Regions from separate parts of the Homo sapiens genome. Here region 2 is linked to region 1. The links come from fine-mapping of genetic effects on gene expression. A gene starts in region 1. The other region holds a variant in brackets. All regions are shown on one strand. Distances are from middle to middle.

Evidence for each region. PIP is the estimated chance that this variant, and not a neighbour inherited with it, causes the effect. A credible set is the group of variants that fine-mapping cannot tell apart.
Region 2: its variant is the best candidate, but not a certain one, in a credible set for the expression of VSIR in pancreas (GTEx, PIP 0.54).

Annotation. Positions count from the first base shown.
Region 1 is chr10:71,771,530-71,775,529 of GRCh38, forward strand. VSIR (V-set immunoregulatory receptor) reads right to left here and starts at 1,991. Exons shown (of 7, transcript NM_022153.2): 1 at 1,829-1,991. The coding sequence starts at 1,910. The region is part of intron 38 of CDH23 (cadherin related 23); the gene reads left to right. RefSeq lists silencers at 1,791-1,870, 1,891-2,220.
Region 2 is chr10:71,744,859-71,748,858 of GRCh38, forward strand. All of the region lies in intron 38 of CDH23 (cadherin related 23), which reads left to right. VSIR (V-set immunoregulatory receptor) reads right to left here. Exons shown (of 7, transcript NM_022153.2): 7 at 2,698-4,000. Among named protein-coding and RNA genes, the nearest start is that of VSIR, 27 kb to the right of the region's middle. RefSeq lists enhancers at 3,140-3,349, 3,735-3,784, 3,985-4,000. The variant C/A (reference allele first, on the strand shown) is at 1,899.

The DNA of each region.
Region 1 (4,000 bases):
TCAGTGCACACTGTCCTAGGGAGTTGGGTGAATATCTATTATAGTGTGTCCATGTCACAGTTCAGAATCCTGAGGTCCCAGAGCAATTCAAATGCTTCTGGCTCCTTTCAGTGGAAAGCTGCAGCCAGCCTAAATCATCTCCCTGTGCTGGGCCCAGGAAGAGATGACCCTTTAGTATACCATGTTGTTTGAGTAGCCAAGACCTCTGGGAGTAAAGGCCCCTGGCCATATAAGCAATATAGGGGAAGGCGTCCTGAGCTCCTCTTGGGGCCTCTCTGCTACTGGGTGCTCTGCAAGCTGGGTCCCTGTGCCCTGGATCTCTAGAAATGTTTCTCAAATTGGGGCTGCTGAACAGAGGGCAGCCCAGCCAAGTGAGGGCAGGAAGTGGGCAAGAAAGCAGGAAGGGTCTCACAGGGCCACCAGGGAGGGCAGTGCAGGGCAGGTGGCCCATGACAGGTGGGATGCTGGCTTGCCTGCCTGCCACCATCCTCTGTTCCTTCTGGAAGCCATGCCCTGCCATGAGCCATGGCCTTGGTGCTGAGACTGTCCATTCCACCTCCCATTCTCCTCCTCCCTCTGACTGTCACCTTGAGAAGCATCCACCCTGGGGCTTAGGGCAGCTGTGTCTGTGACATGTGGAGCCCTCCTCCTCCTCAGAGGCCCAGGCCAGCCTCCAAGTGCTGAGATAGCCAGCTGCCTGTGGGCACCCAGGTTGCTAAGGTATCTTCCAGGTTCAGCCTCCTCCTCTCCCTCTTATCCTATCACCCTCTCCTTCTATTCCATCCTGCCCACTGGGTCCCTGTGCCAAGCCCTCCACCTCCCTCCTGCCTCCCTCCGAGTCCCTGCATGACTCATACTTTCCCTGGGCCCTCCCTATAAAGTTTGGTTCCACAGGCTCTTTGAAGAGATCCAGCCTCTTCAGCTCTGGGCAGGCAAGAACTAGGCAACCAGGCCATGGGTACCAGGGCCTCTGCCCCCAGCCCGGGAGCCCCTGTGTTGGGGCCAGGATACTATCTGAACATGCTGACAGTCTGGACTTTGGAAGGGGAAAATGGTGCTTCCCTGTGTGGGCTTCTGTGTTTGAGCTGAGGAAACTGAGGCCAGAGAGATGCCGTAATTTATCCAGGGACCCAGAAGGGGCTCATAGCTGAGCTGAAGAGTGTCCCACATCCTCCCCAGTACTCCACACTGGTCCCTGAGTGGCAGCCTTGCTAGGATGGCAGGAATCAGCTGACCACTTATTCCTGGGCCATCAGACCCTTAGAATAGGGACCAGGTGGGCAGTGCTGCCTCTGTGTCTGAAAGTGGACCCACCGTGACCAGTGCCCAGTGCCCACCAAGGCTCAGCCAGGGGTTTCACCAGGGCATGGGGCACTGGCTGAGCATACCACGCCCTCTGTGTCCTCTGCAACACTAGAGCCCTGAGACTAGAGGGGCAGAAAGATGCCAGCTGTCAAAAGCCAGTGATATCCACCAGAACACACTGACCGCCCCCACCCTGTGCCTCTCCTTCTTTGCAGAAGCTACCTGTGCCCTGGGTTCTCTGGGCAGGGAAGGGCTGGACAGGCAGCCCTCAGGGGACAGCCCTGCCTGCCACTTGGGCAGCTGTCAGAGCATGCAGATGTGCCCGATGCCTAGCTGGGGCACTTGGCACAGTTGCCACTGCACCCTGCCTAGGGGTCCCAGCAGCCTCTGGGCGGTGGGTGGAGTGGGGTGCACGGTCACACAGGCTGAGAGGGCCCCCAGGACGCCCCCATCCCACAGTTCCCACTCCAGTCTGCTGTCTTCTCCCAGCTTTTTCCCAGCGCCCCGCCTCCCCCGACCTTACCTAGGGACGCAGCCAGGAAGAGAGCGAAGAGCAGGGATCCCCAGCGCCAGCTGCCGGCCTCCAGGGCCGTGGGGACGCCCATGTCGCCGTCGGACGCGCAGAGGAACTTCTGGTGCCGGGGAGCGGGCGGGACGCGGCCGGCGCGGGGAAGCCTCCCGCGACTGAGTGCGAGCGAGTGAGCGCTGCGGGCGGCCCCAGCGCCGTGCTCCAGGCACCCGCCCCCTTCGCGCAGCGCCCCCGGGGGGCCGTGTGGGGGAACTGCCTCTCCGAGGGCCGCGTGGGAGGGGCTTCCCGGAGGCCGGCCCCGTGGGTGGGGAGCCAGCGTGCGTCCCAGCGAGTCAGCTCCACTTGATCGGCAGTTTAAAGCCCGTTCTACCGTCCCCCAGTCCTTTTGGAGAGAAATTATTATTGCTGCGCAGCCTAAGAAGTAGATCTACCTCTAACAGCGTGATAGACGTTACCATGGCTTGCATCTGCCCTCAGCCACCAGCCTTTGAGTGATCTGGGGACAGAGACTTGTACCCTACATCCTCCAGCCAGACCAGGGCTTGGTATGTGGTAGGCACTCCCAGCTGTGGAATGAGTGAGTAAATGAGTGAATGAATGAAATCTGACATTGTGAAGAGCTAGGCAAGCTGGAGCCAGTTTAACTGTAGATTCAGAGCCTGAGGCACCCTGAGTGCATGCGCGCGCGCACACACACACACACACACACACACACACACACACACAGAACAGGTGCAGGACTACACGCCAAGATCAGCACATCCCTACCCCGGGACACACACAGATATGCAGGCAACACCTGTTGGCGTGCCCCACAGCACATCCTGCAAGCTCCCCTCCGGCAGAGGCCTCAGCTGTCCGCCTGGCTGTGCACCCGCCCTCCCTCCCTGGTGCCTGGATATCTGCAGGACACTCTGATGCACCCTAACTTCTAGTGCCTCTGCTCTTGCACCCACACCCAGCACTGCTGGCACCACTGGAATGTCTCTCCCCTCCTAATTCTTCTCATCCCTCAGGGCTCAGCTCAAGTCCTCCCACTTCACGAAATGTCCTGACCCTTCCTTTTTCCCGGCAAATCCTTACTGTCCACACCCCCTTCAGCTACCACCTCCAGCCTGAGATAACCAGCAGTTGGTTCTTCTTCCGGCTGTTCTGCCCTCCAGAGCGAAACTACAAACCTCTCTCTGATGTTTCTGAGACCCTAGCACAAAGCTGGGCGTGGAGAAGGTTTTACTGCACTTTTATCTGAATGGACAAACCAATGAGTGAGTGAGTGATTGTGTGATGGAGGAGCAGAGGTGATCGTGGCCAGGACCAGGGATCACAGGAGTGGAAGAGCACAGCCATTTTACTCAGTTTACCCCAGTCTAGCTGAAGCTTCCAGGGGTTTTTCTGGCACTTTAGGGATCTTGGGTTAATAGGTGACTCCTAGGCTGAGAGGCAGAGGACACTCAGAGTCTGACTGGGTCAGGAACCAGGGTATCAGGACTCAATGGGAGCCAGGAGTCCTGGGGGCCTTGTGGGTGGCCTGATCCAAGTCACGGGCTCTCTGGAGGCCCTTAGCCCTTGCTCTAAGGGCAGGGAAGGCTACAACAGAGGAAGGCTGAGGCATCATGTTATTACTAAGTGAACTTGTGCAGGCCCAGTCCCCCTGGAGCCAGTGAACTCCCCAGGATGGGAGCCCCAGAGGCTGGCAGGACATAACCCAGGTCCTTGGGCATGCTCCTGGCCTTGTGACCCCACCTTGGAAGGCAGCCCAGGGCCCTTCCTGCTGGCATAGCATGAGCTCCCTTCCACCAGGGGAGGTACAAAGCCAACTGAGATCAGGTGGACACCGGGCCCTTCTCACCCTGACATCCTCTGGCAAGTGAGGGGGGTCCCTTAAGGGCAAGATCCTAGAGCACCACCCCATCTCAACCCTTCCTGGACTGGCTTTGCTCAGGACACCCTTGAAACCAGACTCCCTCTTCCCCAGGGCCTAGCAGCCGGGGAGGGCCTGGAATTAGAGAAAGGGGAGCAATTGCCCTGCCAACCCCTTCCCCAGGGGGATAGAGCCTCTGAGCTGGGCCCAGTTCCCTCCCCCCTTTTCACTTCCTTTCTCCCTACCACACTGCCCACCACTGAGCCTCCTGGGGTTGCATCAGGGTGAGACACAGGCATTGCCCA
Region 2 (4,000 bases), 27 kb before region 1:
ACAGCAACAGGTACCAACTTGAAAGATGTATAGGAAAACAATTTTAAGTCGAAAAGAATCCATCCATCTTCAATTTTTCCCCCTGCTTCTCCAAGTTGGGAAAATATTGCTATCATTTGGTTTTTGCAGGGGACACCTCAGTGAAGAATTGCAGTGACCATAGGGACATAGAGAAACTAGCACTAAACCATATTTATTCATTCATTCACTCATTCACTCATTCACTCATTCATTCATTCAGCCATTGTCCCTGAATGGCCACTATGTGCCAGGCACTGGAGATACCGAAATGAAGAAAATGTGGTCTGTGGCCTGAAGAAATGAAGTTGAGTAAGGGAGGCAATGAAAACACTGGTGTGCAATGGGGCACTGAGAAGGGCTTGGGGAAGGCTTCCTGGAGGAGGTGACACCTGGGCCGAGTCTTGTTGGTCAGTCTTGGTTAGCACAGCCAAGAAAGAAGCATATTCTGGGGTTCAGCCTGCACAAAGGCTGAAGAGCAAGCAATAATCAGGGATGGGTTCTGGGAGCCACAGGTGGTTTAGGCCCGGGGCTGCTTCCAAGGCCAAGGGCAGGACTCTCTATTTCCATATCCTCCCGGGACAGTGTATATGGGACTCGCCATAAGAGCTGCTCCCGCTGCCTTCTCAAGACCCCCCCTCTACTGCCTCCATGCCTGGCCGAGCCAAGGTGGGGATGGGGCAGAGCTAGCAAGCAGGGGTCCTGCAGCCCACAGTGCCTACCAGGGTAGCTTGCCTCCAAGGAGCACTGGACCCTTGAAGATTTGCTTCCACTGACCAGACCCTCAACTTTGGGCAGTAAACCCCTCAGGGTTATGAATATCCCCAAGAGCAGAGCCCTTCTCTGCCTCTGGGCAGATTTCACTGGATGCGTGTATGAGGAAGGAGCATTGTCCCAGCCCCTCCTAGAGCAACCAGAGACCTGAGCAGCATGCAGCCAACCACCCTGAGATTCCAGGAATGGCTGCCACAGTCTAATGGGTGAGACAGCAGCTGCTACCCTGCATAGATCCATCCAGAGAAAGCCAGCAGGCCCACTTGCCATCCTTTTACTCCCACTGCAGTTATCTGCCTGGCTTCAAAATGGCCTTCACTGGCTCAGGACCAACCTTGCTGGAGGACAAGGGCATGAAAGATTCATTCATTTGTTCATCCAACACCAAGTATGTGTTATGTGTGAGGCCTGTAGTACAGGCTAGGACACCAGAGATACATCAGGCACAGGTCTGCCCTCCAGGAGCCTACGGTCTGGCAGGGGAAGGCACATGTACTGGAGAGCTGACACTGTGATGTGGTAGAGTGCTAGGAGCCTGGAAGCCAGGGCAGGTTTTCTGGAGGAAGCATCATTTGCATCCCTGTTTTGAAAGATGTGGCTCCCTAAGCAGGGGGCCTGAGATTTGGCTGCTAAGACCCTCCCCAGAGCCAAGAGAAATTCTCTGAGTCCCTCCAGCTCTACTTTTCTCCCTGAGACCCTCGTCCCCCCAGGTTCCTGAGAGCTGGACATTCCTGCAAACAGCCTAGGCCACCCCCATCCGGCCTCAGCCCATATCACCCGAACTCGGAACAGCTGTGCTGCAAGGGGTATCTGGGCCAGACCCAGGCCCGCCACACAATGGTGTGCCACTGGCCGGGGGAGTCATTGTGGAGCCTCAGCCCCTGCCTAGCTCCAGGCCATGGGAAGACAGGCCAGGCTTGGGGGAGGGGTTTAAGTGGTTGTCAGGGAGGCCCCTGCAAAGGAAGAGCTGGGCCCAGGGAGGAAGGGCGGAAGGTAACTGGGAGGTCAGGAGTTAGCCCAACCTCAGAGGCACTTGGCAGTGGGGTGGAGAGGGAGGGAGGGCCTAACTGTGGCCTCCCTGCCACGTGAATTGCAGCCAACCGATA[C/A]TACTATTCCAGATAAGAAGCCCTGGCTTCTCAGGCTGGTGAGGACCTGCAGAAGTCACCTATCCAGGCAGAAGGACAGAAATCTCCCACCGCCCCCTTCTGGTATGCAAGTCCCCAGCAGCGGCCCCGTGACGGTCTATGAGCTGGGGACACTGCTCTTGGCAGTACACCTCATGTCTTTAGAGCAGAGGCCCCTTCTGTTTATTAGACTTGGACCCTGCTATTGTGAACTCTGCTTCCCCTGGCTTGAGATCAGAAGGTCCCAGCCTGGCCCTCACCCTCTGTGGCACCAAGAAGGCTGGCCTTCCCTGACCCAGCACAAGTACATCCAGACCCTTCCCTTGGCCTGGCTTCTTGAGGGATGTTCCACAGCTGCCCAGATGCTCCACATACAACTGGCTAAGTTCCTCCAAGAGACCCTGGGGCTCAGCTGCTGAGGGTTTCTCCCTTCCCCATCCCCTAATGCAAGCAAGAGGGGTGCATGGGCCACTGTGCCTATCAGGAGTCCTCTAGCTCCACAGTTGGCAGGCAGAAAAGGGAGTGGCAGGAGCTGATATGGAAGGAGCCTACCCATCAGCAGCAGCGTCTTCTGGACCCAGAAGAAGGCCCAGGCCAGGGCAGGCAGAGCACAGATAGGAACGTTTCTGGTGTGCAGTACAGTGGAGCCCTGGACCTGTGGGCACAAGTTCATCTCCCAGAGCCCTTGTATGTGCTCTAAGCAAGTCCAAGGTGAAGGCCAAGCCAGGCCCTGGCCCATAATACCAATCCATTCAGTGAGGAGGAAGCAGGAGACCCAGGGTTTAGTCGTAGTTCCACCGTTTACTTGTTTTGACAAGACACAGACCTTTCAGAACCTCTATTGCCCTCTGTGTTAAATGGCAGCAATAAAACCTCCCAGGATTTTCAGGGAAGGGGGTGGATCAAACAAGTTACAACACATGTGAAAGTGTGTTGGAAAGCACCAAGTATTCTAACAGAAAAGGCCAAGAAACAGCATGCATGCTGCCACTTCCCTCTCCCGTGCCCAAGGCAGACATGGCTATCTATCTCGGCACTGTCTCACCAAGCTATATTGATCATTCAGAATCCCTCTCAACACATTCCAGGATAGTTAGGGTGACATAGCCTCCATGGGGTGAAGAGAAGCAGCAATGCAAAGCAGGGAATGCCCAGGGAATGGGCCAGGTGGCCTGTGCCGTCTATGGGCTGGGCCTCATGCTCAGCTGGGCTGTGGCTGGGCTTCAAGAGGCCTTTGTTCCCAGCATCCTGGTTAGCAACCCCAGTTCCTCTTTCGTGCATTGTGGTTCCCTGAGAAAACGTTAACCCAGCCCCCAGCACAGTCAGGCCAGCCCTGGGGAAGGCCTCATTCATGAGGCAGGACCCCAGGGGCCAAGTTGGTGCTCGGTGGTGGCAGGACCCCTGCAGCCCCCTGTCCCACTGCACACTCCCAAGTCCACCCCGCGAGGAGCACCCCCTGAAAAAGGCCATGTATCAGCCCCTCTGCCCTGGGCCACTGCATGTAGTGGGAGCTCTGGTCAGGCAGAAGTCTTTTGAAAAGCAGGTCCTGGGGCTCCTGCACCTCCACCCCAGCGCCCATCGCCACGGACTCCCCCAGGCAGGGCCAGCCTGCCCACCAGCAGTCACCAGTGGCCTCCATGGTGTGTTTTTAGGGAGTGCTGAGCAGTCCCCGCTGTGTCAGCAAAACCCTCCAAATGGTGCTTTCAATTCCATTCCTTCAGCCTCTCCCTGGGAGGGAATAAAGGCAGGAAGTCTCTATTAAACTGTGAATGTCAGGAGATAGGTAAGATGGCCCCTAATTCCTGATTGATCTCCTAACAATGAATTAGTTCTTAAAAGCATGGATTTCCCTCTCAGGGCCTCAGACTGTGCCACGAATCCAGCGCTCCAGGAGCCTCCTGCCCCAGCCCCTAGTGCTCCTCCCGCCCCCTGGAGGCGCCATGTTCTCGCACCCAGCTCTCCCATGCACCCCAGCCCACAGCCACCAGGGCTGGCATCAGAGGCACTACCATCCCGGGCAACTCAGAGGGCGGCTCCAGCAGCCTGCCCCTCCCCAGCAGCAGCAGGGAGGGACGTCCCTAGTG